2 separate regions of the Homo sapiens genome follow, and region 2 is linked to region 1. A link means that fine-mapping ties the variant in region 1 to the expression of a gene that starts in the linked region. Tissue or cell type: whole blood. Region 1 holds a variant in brackets; the other region holds the start of a gene. All regions are shown on one strand. Distances are from middle to middle. Region 1 overlaps GNL3L (G protein nucleolar 3 like). Region 2 holds the start of GNL3L (G protein nucleolar 3 like).

Region 1 (2,596 bases):
AAACCATCACCCTCCCGCAGGGACCCCCAGGTCTACCAGCAACCTAACTTCTAGTGGCATATTCACCTGTCTAAGAGAGTTTTGTAGGCAGAGTTTTGTAGGTCAGCCCTCAACAGGTGTTAGCACCTGAGCTCTGCTGATACTTCTTTTATTTCTCTTGTAAAACAGAGTAGGGGTTAAATAGAGGGTATTGGGTTTGGCAGCTGCAGCCCCTTGGGATTTTTTTTTTTTTTTTTTTTTTGGGACGGAGTTTCGTGTTGTTGCCCAGGCTAGAGTGCAATGGTGCCGTCTGGGCTCACTGCAACCTCTGCCTCCCAGGTTCAGGCGATTCTCCTGCCTTAGTCTCCCAGGTTCAGGCGATTCTCCTGCCTCAGCCTCCCAAGTAGCTGGGATTATAGGTGCCACTAAGCACGGCTAAATTTTTTTGTATTTTTAGTAGAGACGGGGTTTCACCATGTTGGCCAGGCTGGTCTCGAACTCCTGACCTCAGGTGATCTGCCCACCTCGGCCTCCCAAAGTGCTGGGATTACAGACGTGAGCCACAGCACCTAGCCGGGACTGTTTTTACTGGAGGAGGGGGAGAAGACACACAGTGGGGAAAGCGTTCTTTCAATATGCAGATGCTTCAGGGAGAACCAAACTATTTCACTGGTATTCCCCCGTACCACCGGAACTGGTGCTTGGAGCGGAAGGGAAGTGAGATCAGTCGATTAGTCACCAACACCATCATCAGCATTGCCAGAGAGGTCGAGAGCAGACATCATGGAATCAGACAGCTTGCTGGCGATTTTATCTGCAAATGGAGAAATACAGGCAATCTTTTGGTGGCTGGCTTGCCACCAGGAGGCCTGCTGACGCTGGCCTACATCTACCTTGGTCTACACCAAGCTCCTGAACTGGCTCACTTACCCCCAAACGCTACCACAAAACTGGTGAGTGCTGGAAGCCACTGCTCAGCTTCACAGGTAGACAATCCATTTTTCTATCTGTGAAATGATCATCCCAACACAGCTTCTATCTCAGGGTTTCAGACTCACTGGGCTCCAAGTATTTTTGTCCAAATACCAAAGCAATAATTTTCTTTTACTATGTCAAACTTAGTGCTCTACCATTACCCTCAAAACAAAGCTCTCACAGCAAAGGGCAACAC[G/A]GCTGTATGTTCGCCATAAGCCTGAACGTTCACCACGCACACCTCCCATCCCCCAGACACACCCTGTTGTTCCTCAGGATGCCCCCCAGACTTCACCTCCTCCAGGAGGCCTTCTCTGATCACCCCTATCCAACCACCATCCCCAGGCTGGGTTAGGTTCCCTCACTGTGCTTGCTGGGTCTTCAACGTGATTACTATGTGCTCGTGCTGCCAAGGTCTGTTTTCTTGTCTCCTCCTCACTCCCTAATAAGACTAGGAGTTCAAAGGCAATTCATCTGAATTCCCAGGACTCAGTGTGGAGCCAGGCCAAGAGTGAATGTCTGATTGTGTATGTTTGGTTACAGAACACAATCTAGTTCAAAGAATAGGGCTGTTGGGGTCAATCAACCCAAAGTCTGTATTTTGGCTCCATCAACTACAAGTTGTCTTACCTTTAGCGTGTCACTTAATGTCTCTGGACCTCAGTTTTCTCACTTATCAAATAAGGGGAAGACTTTTGCAATGAGTTAGTGAAAAGTACAGCATGGAAACCCAAATGGGCCAGCTACACAATGTACCACCATTAAAACGAGGGGAAGAAGTTCTTTTGTGTATTAACATAGACATATCCCTAAGACATAGTGAGTGGAAAAATGATAGGGCAAAACCATGTGTCCAGTAGATTGGCATTTGTGTGGAAAAAGAGAACAAAGAATATATAGATATTTGCTTGTGTCTCAGAAAAGACACAATAAACTAACTGGCTGACGAGGGGGCGGTCTGGATGACTAGCGGGTGGGAGAGATTTTACTGTATATCCTCTTGTACGTGTAGGATTTTGAGTATATTGCCTATTGATATATAGCCTGCAAGCTACCTAACACATAGAGAGTACCTGATAAATAAATGGTCGTTATTTGATACATAGACTAGGCAGGCCAGTGGTTCTCCCAGTGTGATCCCCAGAGAAATAGCATCAGCTGGGAACCTGTTAGAAATACAAATTCTAACAGGCCCCACAGAAGACCTACTCAATTAGAAACTATGAGGGAGGGGCACAGAAATCTGTGTTTTAACAAACCCTCCAGGGAATCCTGATGCGAGCTGAAGTTTGAGAGCCACTGTGCTAGTAGTTGAGCCTCCTAGCTCATCCCTGCCCCCAACCCTAGACTGGAGCTGGACACAGAGAGATACTCATTCAGGAGCCCCAATCAAGATCCCAGGTGGGGCCACGTGCAGTGGCTCACATCTGTAATCCTAGCACTTTGGAAGGCCGAGGCAAGTGGATCACCTGAGGTCAGGAGTTTGAGACCAGCCTGGCCAACATGGCGAAACATCGTCTCTACTAAAAATACAAAAATGAGCCGGACATGGTGGCAGGTGCCTGTAATCCCAGCTACTCAGGAAGCTGAGGCAGGAGAATCGCTTGAACCCAGGGGGCGGAGACTGCAGTGAGCCAGAAAAAAA
Region 2 (3,022 bases), 30 kb after region 1:
GTGGTACAGGATCGATATGCCTGATTCCACAACTATGCAGCTTTGAATAAGCGGGTCTGCACCTTACCTGCAGTGAGCTATTCTGGACCCTTCTATGGAAGGTGGACTGTGACAACTTTCATCTTTTATGCTGGTTGAAGTCAGCGGCACACTAACACTGAAAGAAATAGGGGCTCTGGTTCTCTGCATGGGTGGTGTGTGGAGGGGGCTGGCAATGCAGCTATAAATTAATAGATCAGCCCTAATACTTGGGGGTGGGGGCGTCTGTGATTCTACCCTGGGTGGAGAGAAACAGATCTGAGCTCCACTACCTTGGGTAAAGGGGAGAGACCATACGCACTGAACTGCCAGGTAATCAGCGATGTCACTCCCTCTCAACATTACAGGGAGGGAGACCTGCATATCTGCTCCTGTGGGGTATCTCCCTTGCTACATTTAGTGATTCTAAATCTTTGGGGGAGGTAGGGGGAGGTAGGGGGATGATCTGTGTCTACCTCAAAGGGAGAGGAACACATCTGAGCCCCTCTACCCCCACGGCCCCTCAAGGGGCAGACCTGACTGTCTCTTCATGGATTAAGGTCTGTTCCTGTTTGCTTCGAAGCATGTTGGGTGCTTCGAAAAATTACACATTCGGTAAAACGGGGGCTACGGAAGTAGGGATCAGGTCTGATTCTCCACAATGGGGACTCACTCTAACCTAAGAGGAGGGGGCAATTGGCTTAGTTGTCCATAAGCTGAGGCCTGTAACTGCAACCACTTTGGGGACGGGTGAGTTGGGGAGCGATACTGAGGGCTCTGAGTCTACGCGTATGGGGAGGAGGTGCCCTCCCTCTGTATATTAAATGTTTCTAAGCTCCTCTATGCTGGTATGGGGGCAGATACATCAAAGCCTCTGTCTGTCCTGAGGAGGTGCCTCGAGACGGCTGTCTAGAGCCAAGCCAAGGAAGTGCCTTAAGTCGGGAGAAGTCTGCGCTGCTCAGCTGGGTGGAGGGAGATGTCTCTACACGGTTGGGGTGGATGTCCCCCATGCCTTTGGTGGGTCGACTCCTGTCTATACAAGGTGAATGCAGAATGAAGCCTCACTATCTTGAGGACGATCAACGCTTCACCACACAAGTGAAGTTTGTGCCTCTCTACACAGTGTGTCCCGGGTCTACACCTTTCTAGGTGGGATGGGGCAATGCCCCTCTCCCGGCAAACTCCACTCCGCGAAAAGGCAATTCGGCGCGTCTCCACGTGTGCCGCGATCCCTGCCCCTCTTCCGGTCCCTTCTACCCTGGAAGGGATCCTGCTGTTTACCTCTCTATTCCAGGTTGGCGGGCATCTCTGGTTTCACATCCAATAGACGATCCTAACTGCCCGGCCGTCTAGGTGAGCGCACATTGTGAGAAAAGAGGAGAGAAGTTTCTTACTTACACTTCCGGCGGGGATCTGAGAAGCGAGGGCAACACGACAACTCGGTTGAGCGAGCAGAAACTCTCGCGCAGCTAGGCTCCGACTTCCGGATCCCAGGCCGGCGGCGCCCGACTCCGCCCACCGTGCGGTCTCCGCGGGGGGGGGGGGGGGGGGGCGGAGCTTCTGACTGACAGCTCACGCCCGCCCGTCCCTTCTTCGCGACCACGCTGGCCCCGCCTCCTGCCTGCCCCGTAGTTAAGGAAATAGCGGAGGAGGGAGAAGGAGGACGGGGAAATGACCGGGAAGAAGCGGCGGGTCGACTGGTGCGGCCATATACCTTACTTGCAAGCCAAAATTTTGTCTGCGGGCATCTGTCTGGGGTTAAATATGCGTGCTCCCAAATCTCAATAACCAGGCAGTCACCACGCCCGAATCAGACAAGGGTGGGGGATGGTGTCTTTGTCTGCCTGGAAGATGGCGACAGCAGGGTGTGAGAAAATGGCCGCCTGGGTCACGTGTCTGGCCGAGTATTTCCCCACCTGAAGTGAATTGGTTAGCTATTCCCAACCACCTTCCCGGGTCCTTGAGCCCCAGACCATCCCTGAGCACTCCTAGCTTTTTCTGCATACGTTCAGATCTATGGCCATACCCAACCCGAGCTGGAGCAGGAGCCAGAACGACTAGAAGCCTCTCCCACACTAGAAGCCTCTCCCACCCTTTTGCCTTCTTCCCCTCCTACTCCATCCTTCCCTCAATCCCGGAGCAGCGTCTGCAGAAGGGAATGAATTTATATCTCTGGAGTGGGGCAAGTAGGGGTTTCTGAAGCCATCTCAAGGAGCTGGCTGGGAAGTGAGGTCTCCCCCACAAAATAGTAAATATTAGTCTGCAAATGTTTTCTTCTTGATGGTTTAATTCCAGCCCCTCCTCTTCCTCAAGCCTAAACCCTGGGGTGGGGCACAGAGTAGGTGGAACTCTGTGCCTCCGAGGGTGGGTTTGTTTCTCCACTTCAAGCACAGACGGGCTGAAAATGACTCCATCTGTCCCTTTATCCCTTACATAAACAGGACTCACTACCTCTCTACATCGTTGGAGGGCTTCTAACCTCTCATCCTAGAGACACATGAAATTCCTCTGGACCTGAAACCAGCCCTGACCACTTTCACCTTTCCCCCTGCATTTGCAATTTTGCTCTGTTTCTCTAAGACCTAACTCTTGTCACTTCGATGAAACCTTCTCTGACTTTCGCAGATGAGTTAGAAACCCAGAGCACCTTACCTATACAGCTAAGCTAGCACTTATCACAATACTGTAGTTGTTTATGTGACTGTGTCTCCACAGGAGGGTGAACTCCCTGAGAGCAGGGGCCATGTATCTTCAAGCTTTCAACAACACCCAGCACAAGACTGGTATGAGGCAGGCTTCAACAACTGTTTGTTAAATGGGTGAGTTTACAGGCCTGCACCACAAAAAATGGGAAATGGGCTGTTTAGTAGATGGCATTGGGAAATTTGGCTCTCCATGAAAAGAAATATAAAACTGGATCTCTATTTATTCCACCTAAGAGGGTAGACTGTGAATGTGAAAGGTAAAACTATGAAGTTAATATATGCAGGAGAATATCTTTGTG

The links.
Region 2: GNL3L starts here. The variant in region 1 is fine-mapped to the expression of GNL3L in whole blood (TOPMed, PIP 0.99).

The regions. Positions count from the first base shown.
Region 1 is chrX:54,558,717-54,561,312 of GRCh38, reverse strand. It overlaps GNL3L (G protein nucleolar 3 like), which reads right to left. Exons shown (of 16, transcript NM_001184819.2): 16 at 1-793. The coding sequence ends at 711. Among named protein-coding and RNA genes, the nearest start is that of GNL3L, 30 kb to the right of the region's middle. The variant G/A (reference allele first, on the strand shown) is at 1,151.
Region 2 is chrX:54,528,697-54,531,718 of GRCh38, reverse strand. GNL3L (G protein nucleolar 3 like) reads right to left here and starts at 1,500. Exons shown (of 16, transcript NM_001184819.2): 1 at 1,300-1,500. RefSeq lists enhancers at 1,095-1,354, 1,365-1,424, 1,875-1,924, 1,579-2,099.